Linked DNA regions of Homo sapiens. The protein of the gene in region 2 interacts with the protein of the main gene of each other region in a pairwise test. Each region holds a gene or a part of one and is shown on either strand. Other genes may lie near its edges.

Evidence for each region.
Region 1: the proteins of SESTD1 (region 2) and IQCB1 interact in binary tests that used the Homo sapiens proteins (3 or more experiments, as listed by UniProt).
Region 3: the proteins of SESTD1 (region 2) and STMN2 interact in binary tests that used the Homo sapiens proteins (3 or more experiments, as listed by UniProt).
Region 4: the proteins of SESTD1 (region 2) and RABGEF1 interact in binary tests that used the Homo sapiens proteins (3 or more experiments, as listed by UniProt).

What each region holds. Positions count from the first base shown.
Region 1 is NC_000003.12:121,825,044-121,832,069, reverse strand, and holds part of IQCB1 (IQ calmodulin-binding motif-containing protein 1), read left to right. Parts: intron 1-3,097; 5' UTR 3,098-3,109; coding exon 3,110-3,209; intron 3,210-3,437; coding exon 3,438-3,600; intron 3,601-5,889; coding exon 5,890-6,019; intron 6,020-7,026. UniProt on the Homo sapiens protein: Involved in ciliogenesis. The function in an early step in cilia formation depends on its association with CEP290/NPHP6.
Region 2 is NC_000002.12:179,261,833-179,269,695, reverse strand, and holds the start of SESTD1 (SEC14 domain and spectrin repeat-containing protein 1), read left to right. Parts: upstream 1-4,863; 5' UTR 4,864-5,197; intron 5,198-7,863. UniProt on the Homo sapiens protein: May act as the primary docking protein directing membrane turnover and assembly of the transient receptor potential channels TRPC4 and TRPC5.
Region 3 is NC_000008.11:79,649,116-79,656,141, forward strand, and holds part of STMN2 (stathmin-2), read left to right. Parts: intron 1-5,755; coding exon 5,756-5,947; intron 5,948-7,026. UniProt on the Homo sapiens protein: Regulator of microtubule stability. When phosphorylated by MAPK8, stabilizes microtubules and consequently controls neurite length in cortical neurons.
Region 4 is NC_000007.14:66,743,733-66,750,758, reverse strand, and holds part of RABGEF1 (rab5 GDP/GTP exchange factor), read right to left. Parts: intron 1-7,026. UniProt on the Homo sapiens protein: Rab effector protein acting as linker between gamma-adaptin, RAB4A or RAB5A. Involved in endocytic membrane fusion and membrane trafficking of recycling endosomes. Stimulates nucleotide exchange on RAB5A. Can act as a ubiquitin ligase.

The DNA.
Region 1 (7,026 bases), on a different chromosome or scaffold from region 2:
ATTTTCATCTAACAGATTGGCAAAAATGTAAAGGATCATGTGTATATTCATTGCAGTGTTGCTTGTAATAGCATACAGCTTGAGTGACCTCCAGTAGAGGTGATGTTTAAATATATTTTGCTGCATTCTTAAAAGGAAATGTAGCATAATGCAGCCATTTGGAGAGAATGAGATAACTATATGCACTCTCTTTGAAAGTTTTGTGACTACTATGTGCCGGGAGTTGCACTGGGCTTTCTTTAAGGTATTTTCAGCAAACCTGTCTTTTAATGATTTATATTGTACCTAATAAGAGATATATGAATGGAAAAACAGTTTTTGCTCTCACATCATGACAATCAACACAAAAGACTTCTGTGACCAAATGTGTGGAGTTTTCTTCCACCAACAAGCAAGCAATCAATTCTGCAGCGGACACCAGCTGGGTATCATCTAATTCAATTCTGACACTGTCTACTTGGAGATAGGGTCAGATCCCTTAGGTTTAGGGCTTAGTCCTGCAAGAGGGACCCCCATTTCTGATGCCAATCCAAGCCCTAAGTTGTTTTACCTGTGCTTCTGACTGACCAGCTACACATGAGGAATCCTATTAATACACACCTTGGGGTGTATTAATTTGCTAGAGGAGCTAACAAAACTGAGGGAAACATGTTTTCCAGTTTATTATAAAGATATTACAGAGACCCTGGGCAACATGGAGAAACCCTGTCTCTACTAAAAATACAAAAAATTAGCCGAGCGTCATGGCTTGCAAGTGTAGTCCCAGCTACTTGGGAGGCTGAGGTGGGAGAATCACCTGAACCTGAGAAGTCTAGGCTGCAGTGAGCCATAATTGTACCATTGTCCTCCAGCCTGGGCAACAGGAGTGAGATCCTGTCTCCAAAAAAAAATACTAGGATACAAATGAAGAGATGCATACTGTGAAGTATGGGAAGGGGCACAGAGCTTCCATGTCCTCCCTGCCTGTGATATCCAGGAAATTCCTCCAGGAACTTCCACATGTTCAGCTATCCAGTAGCTCTTTGTACCCCATCCTCTTGAGCCTTTTATGGAGATTTCAATGGATAGGCATGACTGAAGCATGGACAATCATTTTGGAAATGTGATTGGACAAAAAAGATATGATCTGATACTAACAGACTGAGTGGGGAAACCCAGCAAGGCCTGTCTGCTCAGATTCTTCTTGGCTTCTCTGTTCAGCATTCCTTCCAGGATATAGGGCAAGACCCATTCTGAAACAGGGGTCTTATGACCTACAGCTAGACAAGATAGGTCAGAGAAAGGCAGGGATGATTAGAGTTCTGCTTTGGAGAGAAGGAGCAGGTGAAAGGAGGAGAGGAGGAAGTCAGAAATAGATTCTGTTTTCTGAGGCCTAAAGCACCCTAACATAACAAGACTGTAACAAAGGCTATGGGAGTTATGAGCCAGAAACTGTGGACAAAAACATATATATGTATATGTATATATGTATGTATGGAAATGATCACACGCTCTATCTACTTCATAGCCCTGTTGTGAGGATTACACAAGACAGTGTATAGTATATTAACATAGTGCTTAGCTTATATTAAACAGTTGATACATGTTAGCTTTACTATAAATAAGGAAATACGCTTTTATTATATAAGGATATCTTTGAGCTTCAAATGCTTTAAAACTTTTTTTTTTTAGAGACAGGGTCTTGCTTTGTTGACCAGGCTAGTCTTGAACACCAATTCTCAAGCGATTCTTCAGCCTTAAACTTTTTTTACATAGAGAAAGTTTTAGCAACAAATTAGGATGTGGACCTTGTTTTTTAATGTTAGGAGAATTGATTTTATTCAATATACTATTTACTTATTTATTAATTATTATTATTATTATTTTGAGACAGAGTCTAGCTCTGTCACTCAGGCTGGAGTGCAGTGATGTGATCTCAGGTCACTCAACCTCCACCTCCTAGGTTCAAGCTATTCTGCCTCAGCCTCCTGAGTAACTGGGATTACAGGCACGCGCCACCATGCCCAGCTGATTTTTTGTATTCTTAGTAGAAATGGGGTTTCACCATGTTGGCCAGGCTGGTCTTGAACTCCTGACCGCAAGTGATTCACCCACCTTGGCCTCCCAAAGTGCTGGGATTATAGGTGTGAGCCACTGCCCCTGGCCTTATTCACTATACTATTTAGAAGCAATCTTTGATTATCTTATATTTATGTAACATTTCTGAGCATTAGTGTGTTGAAGGTCAGTGCTTCACTAGGAGGGCTCACAGGACTCAGAATATAGTGTACTTACAGCTATGATTTATTACAGTGAAGGGAAATAAAGCAAAATCAGCAAAGGGAAAAAGCATATTGGGGGAAATCAGGTACAAACTTCTGAGTTCTCTCCCAGTGGAGTTACGTAGGATATGCTTAATTCCTCCAGCAACCAGCTATGACAACATGTTTGAAGTGTTGTCTACCAAGGAAGCTCAACTAGACACTCAGTGATCAGAATTTTTATTGGAGGATGGCCACATAGGCACCCTCTGTATAGGTACTCTCGACTGGCATGTACCAGAATTCTAAGACTCCTGGAAGGAAGGCGGGTATTCAGCATGAACCACATTGTTTTTCATAAACAGTTTTAGGCACAGGGAGCCACTCTTACCAGAGAATGGCAGAAACCCTCCTGAAATCTAAGTTCTAGATGCCAGTCAAAGGCCAACCTTGTAAGCACACCTTTGAAAGTATAGTAGTCTTAGGCCTGTCATGTTAGCTCTTTTTTGCAGTTCTTCTTGTGTGATTAAAGGAAGTTAATTCCTATCCTAGAATTATTGTGCAGATTAGAGAGAGAATGTGAAGCTCCTATCACAGTTCCTGACTCTTAGTGAGTGCACAATAAACAATACCTGCTATAGCTGTTACATGTGAGGTATAGGAATCTTGAGCTCTTTTACACTGGTTAGAAAAACCAGTTTTCTATAAGGAAGAAATGAAAAAATCTACATTCTGCCTCTCAAACAAGGCAAGAAAAGCTGTTTTTATTTATATTGAAATTATATTTCAAACATTATTTAGGTAGTGAACATTTCCTGGCTTTTTGACCTTTATTCTCTGATTCTGTTAAAATATAGGTAATAAGAGAAATGAAGCCAACAGGTACAGACCCAAGGATCTTATCTATAGCTGCTGAAGTTGCAAAAAGCCCTGAGCAGAATGTCCCTGTTATACTGTTGAAGTTAAAAGGTAAGAAAATCTTTTTGTGATTAGATAGCATTTTAAGTGAAAAATGGTTCCATCGTTGGTACAATTTTAACATTTCTTTTAAATTTGTTCAGAGAGGTCTTAACACTATAATAGAACAGTAATTTTTCCTTCTAATATATTTTTAGTGATTATTCAACATATAAAAATACAAATAGCTCCTGGATGTATTAAGCAAAAATAAATATATCTTATTTCCTTTTGCCTTAGAAATAATAAACATCACACCTTTAGGAAGCTCAGAGTTGAAGAAAATCAAACAAGATATATATTGTTATGATCTCATTCAATATTGCCTCTTGGTCCTCAGTCAAGATTATTCTCGAATCCAGGGTGGTTGGACTACAATTTCCCAGCTTACACAGATATTAAGGTAAAATAAAGCAGTAAGTCAGCTGTTCTTGAGGGATGTAGTAGTTGATTCTGATTTTCAACATTTGCTTTTTATTTATCTGCCTAACAAGCATTGGCAACCTCCTGTTGTAGGTTTTGGTTGTACTTTTCCTTCATATTATATGTTATTATTCATAATTTTACTTCAGATTATTTGACTGTCTAAAATTTTCCTCCACAAGCTTAATGAAGATGGTGATCATTTTTTTTCTCACCACTGAATTCCAAGTGCCTAATATACTTTTTATTGATTAAGGAATTTTTAAAGAAGTGAAGAAATTAAGGCACTGGCTCTGTACCTGAGAAACTTAAAATAGAGATTGGGTGACAGTCATGTAAGTATATGATACAAAGCAGAATGAAATCAGTGCTAAAATGAAAGTATGCAAGCAAGTACTATAGGAGAACTGATAAAGAAACATTTTATTTCACTATATCAATGTAGCTATCAACTGTGTATTTCATTAAGCAACCCAAATACTGTCAATAAAATTTAGAAGTAGAATTTACTGATCTACTGCCATGCTAGAAATTAATAGAAGAGAAATAAACATTTTTTAAAGGAGGTAGTAAAATAAACCAGATGTTCTTAGTGCCTAAGCTACTTCCTGATTAATAAGTGAAAGTGTGTATTTACTAACTGGATCCTAGCCTTCTTTTTTTGTTTTTCCTAAATAAGCCATTTGAATTTAATAAGCTATTCCCACTGAAAGGGTTTGTCTTGGATGCTAGATTTCTAAGCTGCTTAATCCTACTGTGTTACTTGGTAAAGGCCAAATTTAAAGCACACAGTTACAAAGAACAGTTGAAAAATATATGTGATATTCTTTTTCATACTTTAATTTTCAAGATTGATTTTCTTAAGTAAATAAAGCCTTATGTTTTTGTTTTGATTCGATATGCTAGTTTATGATGATATTGATTAAGCCAGGCTCTCGGGTGGAATTCAAGACTTAAGAAATTCCCATGTTTCTGAATGCACAAATAAACATAATTTCATTTGTTAATCTTCTCAATCAAAAAAGATACTCTTAAGTAATTAACTTTAGGAACCAAAGAGAAAAGAAAAGCTGATACATGTGAGCATTAGCCCATTAACTTTAGGAACCCAGGTGCAAATAAACAACAACAACAACAAAAAGTGATACATGTAAATATTATCCACTTAGGTTTTTTTTTAACTTTTATTTTAGGTTCAGGGGTACATGTGGAGGTTTGTTTTATAGGTAAATTGCATACTCAATGTTTGTTCTCACTTATAAGTGAGAATATGCAGTGTTTGGCTTTCTGTTCTTGTGTTAGTTCACTTAGGTTAATGGCCTTCAGCTCCATCCATGTTGCTGCAAAGGACATGATCTTGTTCTTTTTTATGGCTGCATAGTATTCCATGGTGTATATGTACCACCCCAAAGAAATATACCATTTTCTTTATCCAGTCTGCCATTGATTACTTAGATTTTTAACATGCTCAATACATAGTTGTTATTGCTTATTAGTGTCCATACATTTTGTTGAAAAGACTCAAACAGCAGTTTTTGTTCATTAGAGTACACACATAGAGACCATTCTTGGGTTTGAGGCTCTTTTGAATGTTAGTTTACAGAAAAACCTTTTATTATTGGGACTTCTGACTTATGTACAGGAAATGACTTTTATGTACAATTTTAAGAGGACCTTTTTCTCTAAGTGACTTTCTCTCCTCTAATGTATATTGTAAAGTGTTCCTACTAGAGTTAGGTTTTGCCGTTTGTCCTTCTGATATAAGGAATATGCAAATGAGTATTTTGCAAAAAGTAGATCTATTGGAAGGTAAAATTGGTATGAAATTAGTGTTTGGTTTCCTTATGTATCCCTTGCAAACAAATCCTACTTGGGCATTTTTCAGCTATTAGGTGTCTAAAATGTATTAGTTAACACAAATGCTTTTCATAAATTAAACTCTCAAGGTATCCTATAGCTTTGAGAATGATTATAGCCAATTCACTGAAAACTTAGCTTCTCTTTATTGTGAGCCAAGTGTCTTTTATTTGCTGAATGAGCTGATATGTAGGTTTTTAGGATACATAAATCCCAGACCTAAGTACAAGCATGGTCCATACCACTGTTTACTTTTCTAGAAAGTTGTTAGACTAATTTTTCAACAAAAATTCTTTATTGTCTTGGTAACAAAAGAAGCATACTAAAAATTCTCAATAAGGCACAGTGTCTCTAGAAGCTTGAGCATTCAACATAAACTTCTAATTAACACGAACTTGTGCTCTTATTTCAGCCATTGCTGTGTGGGCTTGGAGCCAGGAGAAGATGCAGAGGAATTTTACAATGAATTACTTCCATCAGCTGCAGAAAATTTTCTAGTTTTGGGGAGACAATTACAAACATGTTTTATCAATGCAGCTAAGGTATGTGTTTATTTAGTCTTTTGTAGCTAAATCAGTTTAATTCTTAAGAAGCTGTTCTGTTATTTTTTAAATGTGCAATATTTGGCTGAAAGTACAATTAAAGTAGTGAATTTAAACATTTTCAAAGTTACAACCTTCCAAAAATCATCTCTATGTTTGAAAAATTTTTAATGCTGACTGAAGCTTGCCATTTGATTTTTTGAAGGATCTGCCTTGCTACTTTACTTGTTGGGCAGCACCCATAGACAATTATTTCCATAACATCTTTCTAAACATACTTTTTACTTAAATTAACAGTAGAGGAAAGTATGTTCTCTAGGGCTAGGGCTTTTCTAAGTAGCTCCAGTAGTGAAGAATAAAGGTGAACTTCCTATTTGATCTCTCATATCTTCTCCAGTCAAAATATTCAACCCAAACATAGGGGTCTTTTCAAGTATTTCTTGGTTGCATTATGCTAGATGCTATACATGTGCTCTTTTTTTGACCCAGGGATTTAGAAGTGTGTTGCTTAATTTCCAAATATTTGAAGATCTACTAGATACTTTATTGTTATCAATTTCTAATTTAATTATGTTTTGGTCAGATAACATTCTCTATATCATTTCAATCCTTTGGAATTTTTTCAGACTTGTTTTATGGCCCTCCGCATATGTTTTATCTTTGTGAATGTTCATTAAAAGAAACTTTTGTGGGCTGGGCGCAGTGGCTCACACCTGTAATCCCAGCAGTTTGGGAGGCCGAGGCGGGCGGATCACCTGAGGTTGGGAGTTTGAGACCAGCCTGACCAACATGGAGAAACCCTGTCTCTACTAAAAATGCAAAATTAGCCGGGCATGGTGGCACATGCCTATAATCCCAGCTACTTGGGAGGCTGAGGCAGGAGGATCACTTGAACCCAGGAGGCAGAGGTTGCAGTGAGCCAAGATAGTGCCATTGCTCTCCAGCCTGGGCAACAAGAGCAAAACTCCATCTGAAAAAAAAAAAAAAAAGAAAAGAAAAAGAAACCT
Region 2 (7,863 bases):
CATGAGATTTGATGGTTTTATAAATGGTAGGTTTTCCTGCACTCACACACGCTCACTCTTCTCTTGCCTGACACCATGTAAGACGTGGCTGCTTCCCCTTCCCCTGCGATTATAAGTTTCCTGAGACCACCACAGCCATGTGGAACTGTGAGTCAATTAAACCTCCTTTGTTTATAAATTACCCAGTCTCAGGTATTATCTATATAGCAGTGTGAGAATGGACTAATATAGACCCTAAGAGGAGAGGAATGCAAATTAAATTGTGCATTCTGGAAGACAGAATTTAACGGGTGTTCAGAACCCAAGGCATCAGTGAGAGTTTGCAGTCTTTTTTTAAGAGCAGGGATTCTCATCCTGGTGGAATGTCCTAATCATCTCAGGAGTGTTTGAAAATACAGACTTTTGAGGTCCCATCTACAAAGTTTCTGGTCTAGTTGACCGGGGGAAAAGCTCCCAGCTAGATTGTCAATGTCCTGCTCTGTGTATAGTTTGATGTTGTGGCTCCTTATCCTGGTGCCTGCTGCGTGATGACCCGGCCACTATCTGGCTCCCTCAGCTTCTCCCCTACCTTTTTTTCACAGCCTCACTACCTTGGATCCTTCAAGCCTTATCTGTGACTTCACCTTCTTAGCAAGGCCTTCTCTGATAGTAAAAATTGCACCCCAAACCCCAGCACTCTCTAGTCCCCTTCCCTGCATTATTTTTATCCAGCACTTATCACCTAATACACGATTTAATTTACTTATTTTGTGTTTATTGCCTGTCCCACCCACCAGAATGCAAGATTCATGAGGCAGAATTTTTGTGTATTTTGTCCCAACTCTATCCCCAGCACCTAAATCACAGGAGATGCTTAATCAATACTTGTTGAATGAATATATGAATGGATATTTTCTGCTCAGTCATTGTTTGGTAGACATTAGCTTCTGCTTACTGGTGATCTGCCAGGGCCCTTCCTGCCCATGAACACCCTCTGTGAGTCCTTCTGGATTTCAGCTTCCTCAATTGATTGCCTGATTGGATCAGGGTTTTTTTTTTTTTGGACTGATTTTTTTCCCCCCAGGTCATTTTTTGAATGAGTATGACTTGCCTGTGTCTAGGTCAGTGCCCACCCAGGGGCAATCAACAGTGATTCAGGGATTACACAGACAACACAAAAGAGTATATTGCCTGGGGCCACCCTTCAGCAAGGGCTGGAGGAGGGGCAGTTTCTCCAAGCCAACTTTGGTGCAGGATGACTGTGTAGCAAATTACCTAACCGAGCTGAGTTTCAGGAAATTGGCAGTAACAATACCAGTTTGAGACAGACTGAGAATTCTTCAGTGGTTCAAGCAAACAATGTATGGAACACACTCATAGAAGGCATTTTCACTATTAATTTATGATATAAATAAAACAAGATGAGTATGGGAAGTTATCTAATTTTAGATGACATTCAAATGTGGCTTAAAAAAAAAAAGCTTGCTGGTATGGTAGCTCACTCCCGTAGTTCCAGCTACTCGGGAGGCTAAGGTGGGAGAATCGCTTGAGGCCTCGTGTTTGAGACCAGCCTTGTCAATACAGGAAGACCTCATCTCTTAAAAATAAATAAATTAGGCCAGGTGCGGTTGTTCATGCCTGTAATCCTAGCACTTTGAGAGGCTGAGGTGGGTGGATCACAAGGTCAAGAGTTCGATACCAGCCTGGCCAACATGGTGAAACCCCGTCTCTACTAAAAATACAAAAATTAGCTGGGCAAGGTGGCACATGCTTGTAGTCCCAACTAGTAGGGAGGCTGAGGCAGGAGGATGGTTTGAACCTGGGAGGTGGATGTTGCAGTGGGCCAAGATCGTGCTGCTGCACTCCAGTCTGGGCGACACGGTGAGACTCCCTCTAAAATAATTAATAATAATAATAATAATAATTAATAAATCTAAAAGAAGTAGTAGAGGAGAAATTAAGAATTTAGAAACTTGTTGCTTGAGGTGGCTTTGGATTCTTTTTCTCCACCCTTTAATGTTTTTAAAATGTTACTCTCACTTCACATTGATTTCTAGTTGGCAGGGGCTTCTGTACATAACTTCCAAAGTGATATTTAAGAGGAATAAATGCAAAGATCTGCACAGTTTCCAAAAACAAATTGCAAAATACAGGTTGGAGAAGATATGGTTTTATAGCTGTATATATGTTAAAGACTTAAAAAAGATTTGGGGGTAATTTTTGCTTGTTTTTAGTTGGCAATAACATGATATTTATGAACGGTATGGGGTGGTAGAAAAATAATGTGATATCAAACTGAATTTTGAAATATCTTCATTAGGATGCAGAAAATTGTACTCCTCTACTCCTTCCTTTATACTTGGAATATTGTATTCAGTTCTAGGTGCCACATTTTAAGAGACACTGGAGAATGTTTAGATAAATGCGTATGGAGACGAATGAGATGTGAATAAAAAGTGGGTGGAGAAGGCACACATTGTGACTGCTGACTTCAAATGTTTACAAGGCTGCATATGGGGGGGAACCATGCTGTTCTGTATTAAACAATGTTAGTACTAGGTTCAGACTCACTGGACACATTCATACGCATTGCATTCATATTTACAATAATGATTTAAGGTGCTATTATTATCATTTTCTCCTTTTAGAATGGAGCAAACTCATACTTGGAGCAGTTTTGTGCTTTTCTAAGGTCACACAATTAGGAAGTTATAAGCCCAGGATTTGACCAACTTCTTTGGAGTCTAAGTCCAGTGGTGTTTCTACCAATACTGTAGCTACTTACCAAATGTATACAGAGACAGATTTTAGTTGAACATAGAAACTAGCAGGACTGTTTAAAAATGAAAACTGTTGTGAGGTCATGAATGGTTTCCTATCACTTGGAGTTCAAACATATGCTGGATAGCTACATTGCAAGGATCTAGCATATATATATTTACTTTTATAATAAAATATTAAAAACAAATGCTAATCATAGAGCCAAAGAAACTCCAGAAGTAAAGCCTCATGACTATAAGTGATTGAGCTAAGTTCATTCAGTAGTTATTGGAAAACGTAGCATCCAAATTTCATTCTCTGAATTTATAGTTTAATGTTTTTTCCATTATAGCAGTTACCTCTTATCTAACACCTAGGTAATACAATGTGGAACCAGAAGTATGTAAAGAGGAAGGGCAGGGATATTTTGTGAATTATTATAATGGATTGCTTGGCATGCTCTTGTTTTACTAGGATAAGCAAAGAATGTGAATGGTAGTTGGAGAGAGTTTAAAATGATAAGCAGAGAATGCCACATAGTAGAGAAGGGAAAAACAGAATACCACGGAAGGCTAAAAAAGGCTGGGACTGTGGACTTCCCTGTATTTTCTTTTCGTTGAGTAGATGCTCAACATCTATTTGTTGGGATGGAAAATTATTTCAACGCTTCAGCAAACAGTTAAAGAGAACCTTTTTTGTGCTGAGCACTGTGCTATGTTCTGGGGAGCAAAAAAAATGAACTAGACAAAATCCCTGTCCTTTTAAGGAACACACAGTCTAGGAAGAAAAGGCCACCAAGCAAAGCAACAGGAAAAAAGCAAGTATTAAAGATTATCATAGGGAATACTGTAGATAGACGATTTTATGAAAGCAGAGAGAAAAAGAGTATTTAATTCATTGTAAATGTGTGGGGTAAGGATACAGATGTGGTGAAAGGAGATGATGTCAGGGAAGATTCCAAGGAGGAAGGGATGCATTATCTTCATTATCTTGAAGGACAATAGGAGTTCAACTGGTTAAATGAGGGATGGATTTCAGGTGGGGGAAAACTACAAGGGCACAAAGACAAAGTCTGTTGAATTTGTGTGATACGTAGATATATTAGGAGTTGAAGCTGGAGCCAAGGAGGTCAATAGATCAGATTTTAAATGGCTTTGTAAACCATGGTAATGAGTTTGAACCTGATTCAACCAGGTGGAGAGACTTTGAATGATTTTAAAGAGGGACGTTTCATGCTTAGCTCTGTCTTTTTGGAGCATTCTCTCTGGCAGTTATATGGAACTGAAGCAGCAGTGAAGTTAAAGGCTTGACCTAGAGTGGCAAAGAGGTGGAAGTCATGGAGACAGACTGATATTCACAGAATTAAGAGGAAGAATTAATCCACGGGATTTTAAGTCAGAAAACTTTAGTGGAGAGAAATTTGGTTGCTTAGTTGTTGGAATAGGAAGATTTTATCAACGGAATTAGGTGATACTGAAGTGAGTGGCTGAGTGAATAATATGGAAGTCTTGAAATTGGGACCACACAGCTGCTCTGATCTGGTGTGAATTTGCTGATGACTCTTTTGAACTGAATTCAGGAAATGACATACAAATGATTTGCGCAATAAAATGAAAACAAGGACTCTTAAGTCAGTATACTTGGAGAAAAATAACTAGGTTGGTAAAAATGGGGAAGTAGCCATTATCAGGGAGCCCCATTGTGGATTAATTTTGGACTGTCCAGTGGAAAGATCCTCAAAGCAAAACAAATGCCCTGAATCCAGCCCTTCCTCACCGCAACCCTTTCCCTTTCATCTGCCTTCATCCTTCAGCCACACCACCGCTTGGCAGTGAGTACTTGGGAGCAGCTCTTGGAGACTTTGTACTCGAACCTTCGAACTCCAGCATGAGGCCAGAGGAAATAAATGACCTGCCAGGGTGTCAAGTAACGGACCCTCTCTTAAGCCCAGACTTCTGACTCCAGATCTAGGTACCCTTCCACTCTCCAAGACTGCCTCCCGCCTGGGGAGCCTGGGCCTCGGCTAGGGGTGGGGACGGCAGGGTCCGTCCGGAGCGCCAGAGTCCCACTCGCGCCCAGCCCTCAGCCCCAGGCCCGGTTGGACGCCCCGCCCCGCCCCGCCTCCTTCCTCCTTCCCGCGCCGGGCGGGTTGCTGTACCGCCGTCACCCGGGCGCGCGCGGGGTCGCGCGGACGCGGCTCGGGCCGCGGGTGCCGAGAGGTCGCCGGGCCACCCGCACCCCCGCTCCCCGCCTGACGCACGGAGGGGCCGGGACGCGATTTGCCGCGAGTGACTGGAGCCGCAGCCGTCGCCGCTGCTGCCGCCGCCGCCCGGGCCCGCTCCGCCCCCAGCCCGCCTTCCTCCCGCCGCGCCCTCCGCCTCCGCCCGCACCTCGCTAGCGTTCCCCTGTCTTCCCCAACGCCCCGGAGCCGCCGGCCGCTAGCGTCAGCGCCAGCCAGGTGAGTGTGGCCGCCGCTCGGCCCGGGCGGGAGAAGCGCGCAGGCCCCGCGGCCGGGTGGCCGGCTTGGGCCGGTGCAGTCGGCGGCGGCGGCGGTAGCGGGCCCGGCTTTCTTCCCCTGCGCGGGCCGCGGGGCGGAGGGGCTACGCAGTGAAGGAGGGGCGCCCCCGCCCCGCCACCGCCTCTGCTCCCAACGCCCCGACCGCCCCCACCGCCTTGCCGCCACAGACAAAGCGCCGGAGGTGGGAGCCCTGCGGGCCGCCTTTGCCTCCGCGCCGTCTGCCGGGTGCGGCCGCGGCCCGCAGAGACCGGGCCGCGCGCTTTTCCGTTCCTGAGCGCCCTTGTTCATTTCTGGGTGAAAGGGACCCGAATTGTGCAACAGGTTTGGGCGTTAGTCCTTATTTTCCAGCGGGTCTCTTTTGCCAGCGTGCAGGAACCAGATGTGGCTCCCTGCTCTCGGGCGAGTCCCGCGTCCAGCGCCCGCGACTGGCTCCTTTGTGTGACCGGTGACCGGCCCTGTCGGGTGGGTGGAGGACACGGGCTCGAGGCCCCAGGGCTGCGCCGAGGCTCCTGGACGCCTCCTCAGGTCGCGGGGCTTGGCTTCCACGGGCCTGCCAGAGGTTAACATCCCTCCAGCGTTTGGGAGAGTCACAAAGGGGAGGAGAGAGAGGGTTGGCCAGGGTCTGTGGTTGTGTTTATTTTTCTATTTTAGGTAGACTCATATTAGAAAAGAGCCGCAGTCTGACCAGCTCTTGAGGGTACGGGTGGGATTTCACCCTGGGATGCACGGTTTGGACTTGGCTGTTGCTCTGACAGCCCCCGTGGTTTTCTTGGTGCTTTGACATCTTTCTCTTACACACAGACATCGCGGGAGAAGTTGGGAGTGCTGCCGAGGGAGTAACTAGATAGCAGCTGTTTGACAGGTCGTCTCTTACTTCACGTTTTGCTTGTGTCAAGCATGCCCACTATGTATCCCAGCATAGCTTGGCAAACCGTCAAATTTAAATTGCCACTCAAAATCCTAATCCTTATACATACCTACATACACAGACACACATATATCTATATACTTTTTCTGTTTTGGCTGGCTAAATCTTATTAATGTGAGAATTTTTCCTCCCAAGGAAGAATGCATAATAAGGTACAATTTATCTTTGGTTACATACCTTGGTTAAGTTATGCCAATACCTAGCTGGTTTCATTGGTATGCTATTTTAGTTTAACAATACTAATTCCTTTAGCTTTGAGCAGTAAAATACGTCTTTGTTCTAGGACCAGGAAGCTTTTATACGTAATACTTTGCCCCATGACTAAATACGTGAAAAAATTCCCCAAGGACCTAGAAAGCATTTCACAACTCTATAGGCTGTTTTTATGTTCCAAATTCCAGGAAATCGTTTTGTTGAATATTTATTCAAACATTCTGGACTAAATTTAACCTTAAAAATTGGGCCCACTCTAGTTTTTCCCCAGCATTAGAAAAATGAATTGATTGCATTTACCAAACATTTTAGCCCCTGTGAATAAGAATTGAATGGAATAATTGATGTAAGAGATTAGGAGCTAGTGATGGACTAGGAATCTGACAACAGAATGCAGAATGTAGAAAGTTGTAAGTAGAGGTCACAAAGTTGCATCTACTTGGGTTTTAATTCATTGCTAGGCATTTAATGACATTTTAAACAGGTAATCTACTAATGATATATCTGAAAATGAAATGTCCAATAATTAAGAAAACAAAGTATTGCATTTTGACCTTTTTAAAAAATGTATTTTTATAAGGACTTGTTGAAGCTTTTCCACTCTCTAAAAATGAACTTGGTATTAATGACATTTCTTTTGAAAAAATGAAATTGTACCAAACTAATCCGATTTTTAGAAAGTTTCTCTGTTATAGTAGTTTTACTTTACTAAAAATACCATTCATCTGTATAGTAGCTAACTTCAAAGATCTTTTAAAGCTGTTACAAGCAACATGAGCAACCTCTTGAGGAAAGTAGAATATTTACTAATAAAAAGTAGCAAGCAGAGAAGTGAGCCATGATTGGACCACTGCATTCCATCCTGGGTGACAGCCAGACTTTGTCTCAAAAGAAAAAAAAGCAGAGACTTAAATTTTTATAATAGTTTTCTTTGAGATATAATTCATATGCCATAGAATTCACTTTTTTAAAGTATGCAATTCAGTAGTTTTAATATATTCACAAAATTATGCAAATGTCGGCACTAATCCAAGAACGTTATTACCCTAAAAAGAACCTTGTACCTGGTAGCTTTTGTTACTATTCCCCCTTCCCCATATTTGACAACCACTAATTTACTTTATGTCTCTATGGATTTGCCTATTTTGGACATTGCATGTGAATAGAATCATAATATGTGGCCTTTAGTGTCTTTCACTTAACATAATGCTTTCAGGGTTTATTCATATTATACCATGTATCAATATTTCATTCCTTTTATGGCAGAATATTATTTTGTTATATGGCTATGCCACATTTTGTTTATCCAATCTTCAACTGATGGGCATTTGGGTTGTTTCTACTTTTTGGCCATAATAAATAATGTTGTGGATACTCATTTACAAGTTTTTGTATGGTATATATGCTTTCAATTTTCTTGGATGTATACCTAGATGTGTAATTGCTGGGTTATATGGTAATTCTG
Region 3 (7,026 bases), on a different chromosome or scaffold from region 2:
ATTTGTTGGCATCTCACATTGTAGATGGCAATTAAAATGGAATCCAGGGAAAGAGGGGGTGGTTTGTATAGCAATGGATTATGAAACAAAGTACTGGATTATTCACCGCTTGACATTCAGGAAACATTCTGCTCCTTACAGAATATGGCACGTGGGCCACAGAATCTTCCGTGTGCTACCTTCTCGGTGAAGAAGAGCACCCCCAAGTTTCTTTTCCTAGGAGCTAACCACAGTAAACCCATTACACACTTTAGCAGAAGGGCTCATTCTAAAGGTCTTAGGATTTTAATCATTTTAAATTTCCTGTTATGCTTCAGGCTCTTCAACACAAAGTGAATATTGTACTCTTTGGTTTTACATAATTATATTCAATTGTCATATTTCAACAGGACATTATTTGTGACTTTAGATGGGTCAATAATGATTTTCATTGTCAGCAGTAAAGTCAATAATTACAGACACATCACCTACCCTACTTGTGTAAAAGCATTTTTTGGTACTAGGAGATTTAGTGTCTGATCAACGGTCCTGGATAGCAAGTAATATATCCCCCAAATAATGAAAAGTGACAAGAAAATAAATATGTTTACTTCAGAAATAAATGGAAAATTAGTGCTATCTAAAATGTAGTCTTAAGTCTCATCTGTGTACATAAAGTAAAATGAGTTTTATGTACTAGTTACTCAAATTTATCTTCCACTCCATTTGTATAGTAATTAAACTCTTACACTCAGTAATATACAAATTGGTAATTAACCTCTTTGCAAAATGTTAAAGTGTTCCTAAATGTACAATAAGTCTCCTTTCCTGTCTCATTGTTTTTCGCTTCACGTACCTCTCATGTAATTATTTCAATGATTGAGTTCAGTGTGAGGAGGTTTATGCCTAGAAAAGGTGCTCACCAATAACGTGCCTCAGTTCCCATAATAGCAAGATCGAGAAGGTTCTTTAGTCTCCCGGAACGTCACGTTGAACATCTCAGTTCTATATTTTGCCTTGACATTTGCATTATATCAGCTGATCATTGTCTTGCCCTAATTTTCCCTTTTAATATTTTAGTGACCTTCTATGTTAGGTACAGGTTATTTAGAAGTGTTCCTCCAAGGCCAGATACTTTTTCCTTGAACAATTTATTTTTAACAACTTTTAGCGATTTTCTCACTTCACCACCCTCCGTTTCATAAGTCCACGCAATCACAATTCCTTTCTGCTAATCTGCACAGTCAAGATATAAAGTAAGAATACCTATTTGAACATGTAGTGAGAACTTTACTTCTCTGCCAAAAATGAAGGAAAATGCTGCCACTTTTGTATGTCACATGTTTTTTATTCTACAGCCTCACTCACTTCATGTCATGTTTTAGTGCAGTTTTCTGGACTAACTGCTTATTTTCTCATTGATTAAACTGCCTATTTGCTCATTGGAATTAGAGCCAATTTTTTTCCTTGAGGGTCTGACTAGAAGATTAAACTATGTTCATGTGAGAATCAATTTCTACCTAAGAAATGAGTTAGAGGAGTTATGGGCAGCAATATCTATCTGGATGCTACACTGTGAAAAAGGAAGCGAGGTTATGCCTTTCTACCCCAATGGGGTAGCAGAGACCTCAGGAACTGAGGTAGATGCCCCCCTGGTTATTAGCGCCCCTGAATAATTTGTTCAAAAATTGACTGCTGGACAGGTGTCGTGTTGCACGCCTGTAGTCCCAGCTGTGCAGGAGGCTGAGGCAAGAGGATCTCTTGAGCCCAGGAATTTGAGGCTATAGTAAACTAAGGTCACACCACTATACTCCAGCCTGAGCAACAAAGCAAGACCCTGTCTCTAAATTTAAAAAAAAATATTGAATGCTTATGAATAGAGACTAATATAGGAAGTCATAAGTATTTCCTTGGGATAGAATGCTTTCCACCATAATTGACTTGACATCCTGTATTTTTGTATGTGTGGACTTAAGTTTTAAATATTTGAAACACAGACAATTATTAAGTCCTGCAAATGTGTGAGTTAATAGTGGATATAACATTCCCTTCCAGGGTGTAAGAAAAGGTACCACAGAAGTGAGCAGCCCTGAAGCACAGCCTGGCCTAGTTTGGCAGGTCTCTGTGAGTTAGCAGCAGACTCACGTGACCACACTCTGTACTGCCTTCTGTTTCTGTTTCACCCCATTAATTGTGCTAAAGAAATGCACTTGACACCTATGCTGTGTAATCTCATTTAGCCCCAATAGCAACAAAAGTACTAACCCCATTAAATTGAGTCATTTCAAACTGAGCCAAATGTTGCACTCCAGTAAATGGAGTAGGCATTGGTTATAATGGGAATTCTCCATTATTCATAATGGAAACCACAGGAGTTTGTTCATGCAGATCAAATGTGTCCCACCAAGGCAAGAAGTATGGAAAAGTGGTGTTGCTGTATTACCTTGTAATTTCAAAGCCTTCCCGTCTGAATCTTATTTCCCTGCTGTTTCCTCTTGACTTTGGTTCTTTCACAAAGGAAAATTAAGAACACAAATATAAACATTAAGTTAAAACACAACTGAACAAAGTGCCAAACTTAATTGGAGCATCTGAAAATGAAACATTAGGCAGTTGCAGTGGCCTCTTGATAATAATTCACAGTAACTCTCTGTAAGCTGATCCTGTCTGAAGAGCAGCAGGCACAAGGCCCCTGGCCATGAAGTCCATCTCAAAGGGCCAGGCTCAGCAAAGCAGGATGCAAACCCAGGCTTTCCAAATACCAGGTTGGGGCTCATGTCACTGTGCCACAGGAGCTTCTGTAGAAAGGCTACTTGAAAAAAGTGGCCATTAAAAATCCAGGTGGATCCTATCTAGGGCAGTGTTGGAAACACTGATCTATGGGAGGAGGAGCAGGAAGGAATTGTTTAACCACTGAGCAGAAATGTTACATTGCTACCTGCCTTTAGCAGCTGTGGCTGATGGGTACCAGTTGCTAAGAAGAGCATTACCTAACAGTGTATTAAGATAGAAAAATGATTTTAAAGCACGGCACTTAGAGAATGTTGAAGTTTTACTTTGCTTTATTTTGATTTGTTTGGTTTGACTTTGTCTCCTGGAGCATCCTCCATGGATTTCTGTTCATTACAAGAGAAACCTAGGGCTCTAACCCAATTCCTAATTCTTGGACACATTGCACCCTTGTTTTGTGATAATCCAGCCTTCTTCCTTGAGAAGGTTTGCTGGACTGGAGGTTACATGTATTGAATTTTCTAAAATGAAGGTGCAAAGCTGTCTCCTCTTATTTCTTTGTGGTGCTCACTTCACTGTGAGATTTCCTATCAATACAGCCCAAGTCAGTGGGCATGCATGAGGTGGAGATGAGGGAGTTAGGAAGGACTTGGACTCTCATCAACCATCAGGATCCCTGAATCCACTAACTGTTCATAATCAAAGAAGTTTGAACAAATACTTCACACACATGAAATTGCCAAAATTTTGCATTTGAGTTGTTATACCAGTAAGTCCAGTTGCCATCATCTCCTTGTCACAAGTGTCTTAAATTTTGCTTTTGATAATAATGATTACCACTCATTCAGTACTAACTTACTTGATATTAGACACTGCATTAAATACCTTGCAAACATTATTTTGTTTGATCCTGACAACCATATGAGATAGGTACTATTCTTATCCATTACCAAAAAAATTAATTTCATGAAGACTTTTCCCAGAGAGAGAAACTTTAAATATTTACACACACACCTCTCTCCCTGTAACAATTCCGTAGTCCTGATAACAGCAAATAAGCAAAGTCTGTGTAGGATGCTTTACCAACAGTCCCACCTAGAGGCAGGAGAGTGAACCAGCTAGAAAATATTTTATTCATATTTCTTCCAGAAAGGCTCCATTGGAGTTTGAACTCAATTTATGTTATAATTTTCTTATTATTTTTGTATTGGTTTTCCTGAAACCAATACAAAGTAAGAAAGCATTGGTTCCACTAAAAATGTCCTAAAACCAGCCAAGCACAGTGGCTCACACCTATAATCCCAGTACTTTGGGAGGCCGAGGCGGGTGGATCACTTAAGCCAGGAGTTCAAGACTAGCCTGGCCAACATGACGAAACCCCATCTCTACTAAAAATACAAAAATTAGCAGGGTGTGGTAGCACACACCTGTAATCTCAGCTACTCAGGAAGCTGAGACATGAGAATCGCTTGAACCTCAGAGGCAGAGATTACAGTGAGCAGAGATCACGCCACTGTACTTCTGCCTGGGTGACAGAGCGAGACTCTATCTAAAAAAAAATAAACACATAAATAGTAAAATGTCCTGAAACCATTATGGGGTTAAAGCAAGAGGCAGGGCTGGTTCCCAGGATTTTCTGTCTAATCTCCAGTGAGCCACAGACCTATTCCTGATCAACTTGAGAATAAACACATCAGTAAAGATGTGTAAGGCTGTCTGACTTTCCCATTTCTGTAGAATTTTATTTGAAGAGAAGTTTCTCCTTTCTCCAGGCCCCATATTGTTTATACAAAAAGACCTTTCCAGTAAATGTCCACAACCACTACCATCAACTAAAATGTTTTCCCACTAATGCTTTCAATGGTAATCAGTATTTAACAGGGCACTTAGGATTATTTTTTGATCAACCATTGTTTAGATATTCCCACTTATAATTACTCCTGTGAAGGATTGCCTCGGGGCATCAGCTGATCCTGAGAAATTATCCAGAAGCCATGAGTGTGTAATAATTTAGTCTTAAACCTAAATAGGTCAGTATTGGGTGGGACTTTTCTCAGCTGCATAATGGGGAGAATAAAAAGAATATGGAAAGAAGTTACGTAACACATCCTGGGTCACAAACAGAGGTAAGACTTGAACACAGGCCTGACATCAAAGCCCATGCCAGTATGACTTACAAAAGGTAGACTGGACTACCTGCATTTGAGTCACTAGTGATGCTTATCACTGGGCCTCACCAAAGAACCTTGGAATCAGAATCTTTGGAGGTAGATGCCAGGCACCTGCATTGTTATCAAGTGCTCCAGTGATTACCATTCACTGTACAGAGCCAAACAGACTCCTGATGCTGGAAGAAAATTACAGTGCTCAAAGTGCAGGGCAGGGTGTACATCTGGATCTAAATCACTGAGCAACCACAGGGTTTCAAGAGAGGGTCAAAACAAGGACTTTCTGCTCTCTGTGGCCAAGGGGACACTAAGTTTGCACTGTTCTCAGATCTCCAAAGAGACTTTGGTGTATGGGGGATAGGGAGGGGGGAAGGGGGTGTGAAATAAAAGGAGAAAGTGAATTTGATTATTTGATTGATGAAAATTGAAAAGCTTATTGTAGGGCCTAGCCTACAGTTGATGAAAAAACAATGGATCAGGAAGAAGATCAGAACTTGTCTCAGTCCTCAACTGTTTTCCTCAGGCTTTGGTTGAATATTGCCATCCTGTAATTCATTATAGCATTTTCTGTTGCATAAACGCTTAGCAACAAAGCCTTTTTTTAAAAAAATTTGTAACTCCTCAATGAGGATTAAATGCTTCTTCTTCTAAGACAGTCCGAAATATACTCACAGCTGAAAATTCAGCTAACCGCATTTCCCAACTAGCCACATTCTATAGAAAACTCTAAGCCATGCAGATGAGTACAGACTTGACAATAGTGCTCAAGGCTGGGAGTACTATTCATCTGAAAAGAATGCTCCCTCCAATTGGTGGGCCGTTATTCTGCTAGGTTTGTGTTTGGATAATTATAAGATGGCTATGTTTTTCTTCCCCAGTCTCAGGAGGCCCAGGTGCTGAAACAATTGGCAGAGAAGAGGGAACACGAGCGAGAAGTCCTTCAGAAGGCTTTGGAGGAGAACAACAACTTCAGCAAGATGGCGGAGGAAAAGCTGATCCTGAAAATGGAACAAATTAAGGAAAACCGTGAGGCTAATCTAGCTGCTATTATTGAACGTCTGCAGGAAAAGGTAATCTCAGCAGAGTCCTGAGCAGATGGATATATTCATATGCAGCACAGCTGGGTGAACTTCCATATGCCTGAGCACAGAGACGAAGTCAAAATTTGCTGCAGGTGTGAGGACAACTAACTCCCATGGGCAGGGTCTCACAGTGTAGCATTGAGTTAGCAGGAGGTGCAACATGGTAGAGAAATGGGAATCCATCATGAAAGCTGGAATTTTGTCAAATTTTCCCATGGTGAGTGGATTCAGGGAGGCTGATTCATGCTTTTGAAATGTGTAAGACTTCTATACAAGCCTCACGAGGCAATCTGTAGGAAAAATGTTACACTGGAAATATTAATGTCTATATATTATATTGATATAAGTATAAATAACATTTGATTTAATATTTGTTTAATATATGACATTAAATATATATTTAATTAAAATATTAAATTAGAAAAATATATTTGCCAGAAAAGGCCAGGGTATTTATGAACACTGGTAAGCCCATTCTAGGGTATAATAGCATCACATGGGACCATAGCAAAGATTAGCTCATAGGGGATGTTTCATCCAGTTCTGGTATCCTGGTGCCCTTCTCTTCAACAACCTAAACATATATTCATTCCCATGAGTCAGGAGGAGCTGTGCTGGAGTTCTTCTGAAAAATGCTGTCTTTCACTTTTGTACTCTCTATGCTGTCTCCCACCTATCCCCTCAAAAAACCTTTCCTTTGAAAATATACAGTATAGCTGTGAGTAGTTTAGCTGTGTCCGTTTCCAGAAATTGGAATAAGCATTGAGAAATGGGATGTTTGAGAAAGACGCCTCAATCCTTTTCTGAGCAGTCAGTCACCCTTCCCGCCAGTAGCAAGTGCCTTTGTGTGATAGGCATTGGAGATGCAGAGCAAAACAGGAGTGTGCCTGTCATCAGAGCCCTGAGAGTTTAATTAGATGAGCCTCCTGTTTTCTATTTCTCAGAGTTTCATGTCTTCTGTTAGAGATGGCCCTTCTCATCTAAGGTTCAAAAAACCTTATCCTGAAGTTCTGATGATTCTGTTTTCATTCTCAGTCTCTGACTGCAAATATCCAACTAGAAACAAA
Region 4 (7,026 bases), on a different chromosome or scaffold from region 2:
GGGGCTGGAACTGGTTGGACCTGTAGTCCAACTGGCTGATCAGTTTTTCTGTCAGAATCTAAGAACCTTAACCTTAAAATAATCTCAACTTATTTCTCAAGCACCATTATATGTGTGTATATTATATTTAAATGTACCAATATATTTATAGCACTAGAAAAATATGTATCTTTTAATGCATTGAGTTACTAGACAGAAGTATTAAAAAGGCAAAAATTCCTCTTTAAGGAAATAGCTTACATCCTATAAGTGCTCTTACAGGTAATGAAAAAACTGTGTCTGCAATTTGTTCCCTAATATGTCATAAACCAAAAATAGGCTCTTGGGAGAAAGTAATATCTACTCAACATAGCTGGTATTTAAAGAACTTAAATACTGAATTTCAGTACTGTCTCTGTCATAAAACATTGTATTTCCTGGGGCAAGTAACACCTTAACAATGTTTTATAAAAAGCATCAGCAGTTAGCATATGGGTATGAAAACACTTTGCCATTGAATTTCTCATAGATGGTATTAAAAAGTGTCCATTCATGACTATACAACTTTTAAAACCCTAGACAAATAAAAATCCACATGCACTCACTACAAATAAAATCTACACTCTCATCAGACAAAATCTACATTCTCAATACAACCCCAACTGCAACGGCCAATAAATTTACACAAATAAAAATATAATCCAACTTGCTAAACAGGACCCAAACGTATTATCTCGTGAGACACCAGTTATGATAAATTTTGGACATTCTATTTCATTATTCTGTAGTTTTGTTTGTTTGTTTTTGAGATGGAGTCTCGCTCTGTCGCCCACGCTGGAGTGCAGTGGTGCGATCTCGGCTCACTGCAAGCTCCGCCTCCCAGGTTCCAGCGATTCTCCTGCTTCAGCCTCCCGAGTAGCTGGGACTACAGGCGCCCACCATCACACCCAGCTAATTTTTTAAAATATTTTTAGTAGAGACGGGGTTTAACTGTGTTAGCCAGGATGGTCTCTATCTCCTGACCTCGTGATCCGCCCGCCTTGGCCTCCCAAAGTGCTGAGATTACAGGTGTGAGCCACCGTGCCTGGCCTGTTTGTTTGTTTTTAGAGATGGAGTCTTGCTTTGTTGCCCAGGCTAGAGTGTAGTGGCTATTTACAGACACAATCATAGTGCACTGCAGCCTCTAATACCTGACCTCCGGCAATCCTCCTGCCTCAGCCTCCCAAGTAGTTGGGACTACAGGTGAACAACACCTCGCAAAGTTCTGTTTTTTGTTTTTACACTTTGTATTTGCTTTCTTACAATATTCTATTCAAAACTTTGGTCACTAGCCCAACTCCTTTTTGAGGAACACATTTAGAAAACAATGTCAAAAGCTTTATGGATATACAATTAAGGAAACACAGCATTACATAACTATATTTAGGCAAGGGCAGTTTCACCCACTGTTTACTGAGTAAGAGTGAATAAGGATGGTCTCTCTCCATTAACACAATGCATGGCTCCTGCTAGCATTTGATAAATTTGAACTATTATTACTTGAAAGTGCAACTGTTCAGCTGGAGCAAAATACAGGCAATACAACTTACTGGACATTTCATCTGAGACGAGTAGATCTGGATCTGCTCCCATCTTCATATTTGGTATTCCCTCAGCCCATCTCTGTATGGAGGTGAGGTGGCTTTCATTCAAATATGTGCCCCTGTCAGACATACACTGGGTCATGCCACCACCAGGGCTTCAGTGGAGGAAGTCACGGTGAGCCTGAAGGCCTGATATCACCTACCAAGAGCCTCAGGGAACCCAGCCAGCAAAGCAGCAGCGGCCTTGCTCTTATGACATAAAACAGTTTTTGGAGAGTGCCCAGAACCAGGGTGACAGAAAACTCTGTGAGGGTTTCAATAAGGTGCTGAAACAGTGCAGACTTGCAAACAGATTGGTCTAATCAGAAAGTTCGAATTGGAGAAATGGAAAATCAGCTCTCATAACCAAGTGATTTAGCACAAAAATACAATTGATAGTGAAGGTATAAAGTGTAATCATCAGGTAAACCTCTCCTCTCTCATAGCGTCCCTGCTTCAGGACTGCAATGGAAAAGGAAATTCTTACTGTGTAGAATTTCATTAAGATGGCTGGGTAGATGTTTGTGTGGCACCCTTGAACTAGCCGTTATGATTTTATTCTTTGTTGAGTTAATTAGAATAAAGTGATTTTCCTCAAAAAACAAACAAACAAATATGTGCCCTTGTCAGACTGTTCCATCGTGATACCCCCACGATAAACCATGCCTGTTAAAACATATGGTTCCGTGATTCACCAACAACAGAAAACAGATGCATTCAAGGAACTTGTGAGGAAGCACAAACTCAAACCCCACTGCTGATAAATTCATTACAAAAGATCCACTGAGAAAGTATGGAAGGTAGGTGAAGAATGTGCAATCCACCTACTCATCTAGATAATCTAAAACAGATCCTTAAATCAGCCTAGAGATCTAAGTACTCGGATCACATTATTTTGCAGGCAAGAGAAATGCTTTTACGGAATGTTTTGATGTTATGTCACCGTCTTACACAAAAAGCCAATAAGGAGTTTTACTAACACACAAAGTAAAACTCGACACCCAGCCCTTTGAAACGCATGCTGGAAAGTCTTTGGGAATCCAAAGCAGAAATGATCTCTTTTGTCGTATGGTCACTGACCCATGTAACTGATTATATTTCTCTCTTAATTGGCTACTCAAAAGCAAAGCCAAATTTGTGGCCCTCTGCACTTAAGACTTCAGTCCAAGTGCTCTGTGTACACAGCTCATTCCTGTTTCCATCTTAATTTTCCCTCAGTCCTGCATTCCTCACCCACTTATCTGTTATGTTACCAACAGTATGTCGCACGTATCTTTGTAAGTCATTACAAACCCTTTCTGGAACAAGATGTGGAATAATGGAATAAGTAAATGATATGTTCCACTGAAAAAAATTATAGCACAATAAGAAAACATTTTCTTCGATTAATAAACATTTTCTATGTTCAATTTCTAATGGCATTTTCTTTTATGTGCTCCAAAGTACCTTCTAAAGGAAAAATGAAAGTGCTTAAAATTAGAAAATTCTAATTTTAAGAATTTAAATTTCCTCTGTACAACAGAGGAACTACAAAAATAAAACTTTCACTATGTATTTTTAACTGCAAAGCACACAGAAAATTATAAATATACCCCTATGTGAAAATCCCCCAAAAGCGATTTTTAATTTTAGCATACAGACCAAATCACCATAAATTCAATTACAGTTGTGTATTTATTTTGAATGGGAACTGAACAGACTAGCTTCAAATGTGGTTCATAAGGTCTTTGTACAATTCCTCCTGAGTTGTTCTGTGCCTAGCATAGAGGATGCTGCCAAACCATTCCTTAGGGTGAAACAGCAGAGAATTTAGAGCCCTCAAAACTCTTGTTACATTCCTGCTTCAGAGATTTCAGCAATCTGCTCACTGTTACTGGGGGAAAATTAAAAAGCTTAATACTCTCTCAGTGTGTAATATTTTACGCATTCATGAACACATACTTATTCTAACTTCTGACTTTTAACCACATTTAATTAATTGATCATAATAATGGTATTTGGCCCTCTTAATGACCATTGCCAAGAGAGCTATGCTACCAGAAACAAATTAAAATGTTCCACTAGGGCCGGGCACGGTAGCTCACACCTGTAATCCCAGCACTTTGGGAGGCCAAGGCAGGTGGATCACCTGAGGTCAGAAATTCGAGACCAGCCTGGCCAACATGGTGAAACCCCGTCTCTACTAAAAATAAAAAAATTAGCTCAGCATGGTGGCGCGTGCCTGTTAACACCAGCTACTTGGGAAGCTGAGGCAGGAGAATCACTTGAACCCAGGAGGCAGAGGTTGTAGTAAGCCAAGATCGCACTATTGCACTCCAGCCTGGGCAACAAGGCTGAAACTCAGTCTCACTCCAGCAAAAAAAAAAATTAGCCGGACGTGGTGGCAGGAGCCCATATTCCCAGCTACTCAGGTGGCTGAGGCACAAGAATCGCTTGAACCGGGGAGGTGGAAGTTGCAGTGAGTAGAGATCGTGCCACCACACTCCAGCCTGGGTGACAGAGCAAGACTCTGTTCTCAAAAAAAAAAAAAAAAAAAAAAGGTTATATTATAAATAAAAATTGCACTTCCTGCCGGGCACGGTGGCTCACGCCTGTAATCGCAGCACTTTGGGAGGCCGAGGCGGGTGGATCACGAGGTCAGGAGTTCGAGATCAGCCTGGCCAATATGGTGAAACCCCGTCTCTACTAAAAATACAAAAAAAATTAGCTGGGTATGGTGGTTAACTACTCGGGAGGCTGAGGCAGAAGAATCCTTGAACCCAGGAAGCAGAGGTTGCAGTGAGCCAAGATCGCGCCACTGCACTCCAGCCTGGGCAACAGAGCAAGACTCCGTCTCAAAAAGAAAAAAAGAAAAGTAAAAAAAAAAAATCACACTTCCTATCCCACTGACAGTAACTTCATTGAAAACAGGAATTTCACAGGAAACTTCAAAACAGCACCATAAAAGTATAATGTTTTCCTAAAGCATTTTAGGAGCTTTATCCAAACATCAAAGAGATAAACATAAGTTAAATAATATTAAGTGGGATAACTGTTATTTCACATGTTTACATATTGTAACAATAGTCCAGATCATTTAAACTCACTTCAGCCATGTGAAACAACACACATGATGTTTCTACAGTGCTCTATGAAAGAAGTGTACATTTAATAAGATTTTCAAGATGTTTGGCCTGTACTATGAAACTTCTTTTTATAGAGACAGGGTATCACTCTGTCACTCAGGCTGTAGTGCAGTGGCTTGATCACAGCTCACTGCAGCCTGGAACTCCTAGGCTCAAGCGATTCTCCCACTTTGGCCTCCCAAAGCACTGGTATTATAGGCATGAGCCACTGCACCAGCCTGAAACTCTTGGTTTTAGTGTGATCACTTTTTTTTTTTTTTTTTTGAGATAGAGTCTCACTCTGTTGCCCAAGCTGGAGTGCAGTGGCACAATCTCGGCTCATTGCAATTTCCGCCTCCCGGGATCAAGAGATTCTTGTGCCTCAGACTCCCGAGTAGCTGAGATCACAGGCGCACATCACCATGCCTGGCTAAGTTTTTTGCATTTTAGTAGAGACGGAGTTTTGCCATCTTGATCCAGGCTGGTCTCAAACTCCTGGCCTTAAGTGATCTGCCCACCTCAGCCTCCCAAAGTGTTGGGATTACAGGTGTGAGCCACCGCACCCAGCCTATGGTGTGATAACTTTACTGATGGGCTAAGAAGCCACTCACTTGGTACCATTTCTATTCTGAGTCACAGGTGTTAGGTTTACACAGGTATTTCCTACATTTGAGGGATAGGTCATCTCTGCTAGAGATGTTTCCTCTGCAGCCAATAAAAACCCACATGCCAGAAATTAAGCTCACACAGTCAAGACTGAAATTCTATGTCTCTAGCCAAAGACTCACATAAGTAAACAGAATTTTAGTTCTATATGTAGACATCACAATGAGTAAGTACTGATATCATTTTTTTTTTTTTTGAGATGGAGTCTCGCTCTGTCGCTCAGGCTGGAGTGCAGTGGCACAATCTCGGCTCACTGCAAGCTCCGCCTCCCGGGTTCACGCCATTCTCCTGCCTCAGCCTCCTGAGTAACTGAGACTACAGGCGCCTGCAACCATGCCCGGCTAATTTTTTGTATTTTTATTAGAGATGGGGTTTTACCATGTTAGCCAGGATGGTCTGGATCTCGTGACCTCATGATCCACCCGCCTCAGCTTCCCAAAGTGCTGGGATTACAGGCGTGAGCCACCGTGTGCGGCTGATAACATTTTTTTCACTGAAAACCAGCAACAAAAAATCAAAGAAATCAATGAGTTATTCTTATCAAATCAGTTAAGTACTCATTAAACACTTGTGTGCTCAATTGGGGTTGAGAAAGCAAAGAGAGAAATGAATGCAGAATTCCTGTTTACAAATTAGCCAGGTCAGACATCCTTATAGAAAGAAACAACTAGGAAATGAGTATACATTCACGTCAAGCATCTTTTTTTTTTTTTTTTTTTTGAGACGGAGTCTGGCTCTGTCGCCCAGGCTGGAGTGCAGTGGCGCCATCTCGGCTCACTGCAAGTTCCACCTCCCAGGTTCACGCCATTCTCCTGCCTCAGCCTCCCGAGTAGCTGGGACTACAGGCGCCTGCCACCATGCCCAGCTAATTTTTTGTATTTTTAGTAGAGACAGGGTTTCACCGTGTTAGCCAGGATGGTCTTGATCTCCTGACCTCGTGATCCGCCTGCCTCAGCCTCCCAAAGTACTGGGATTACAGGCGTGAGCCACTGCGCCCGGCTATCTTTTTTTTTTTTTTGTAGAGATGCAGTCTTGCTATTTTGCCCAGGCTGGTCTCCAACCCCTGACCTCAAGCAATCCTCCCACTTTGGCCTCCCAAAGTGCGAGGATTACAGGCGTGAGCCACCATTTCAAACATCTAATAAGCAGAAAAAATTAAAATACAAGATAGCAGTAATTAGCTGGGCGTGGTGGCGCGCGCCTATCTATGGTCAGTCCCAGCTACTCAGAAGGCTGAGGCACACAAATCGCTTGAATCCAGGAGGCAGAGGTTGCAGTGGCCAAGATCATGCCACTGCACTCCAGCCCAGTCACAGATCAAGACTCCGTCTTAAAAAAAAAAAAAAGAAAAGAAAAGAAAAGAAAAAAGCAAATAATCAAGCACTACACTGAAAACATTTATCCTTATCAGCTACATAGCAGCCTGTGTGTAAGAGTTACATAAAATTCCATTTTAGGGCCGGGTGCAGTGGCTCATGTTTGTAATCCCAACACTTTGGGAGGCCGAGGCTAGAGAATCACTTGAGGCCAGGGGTTGGAGAGCACCCTGGGAAACATACAAGGATTCCATCTCTACAAAAAAATTTAGCCCAAGTGTGGTGGCTCACACCTGTAATCCCAGCACTTTGGAATGCCGAGGAGGGCGGATCACGAGG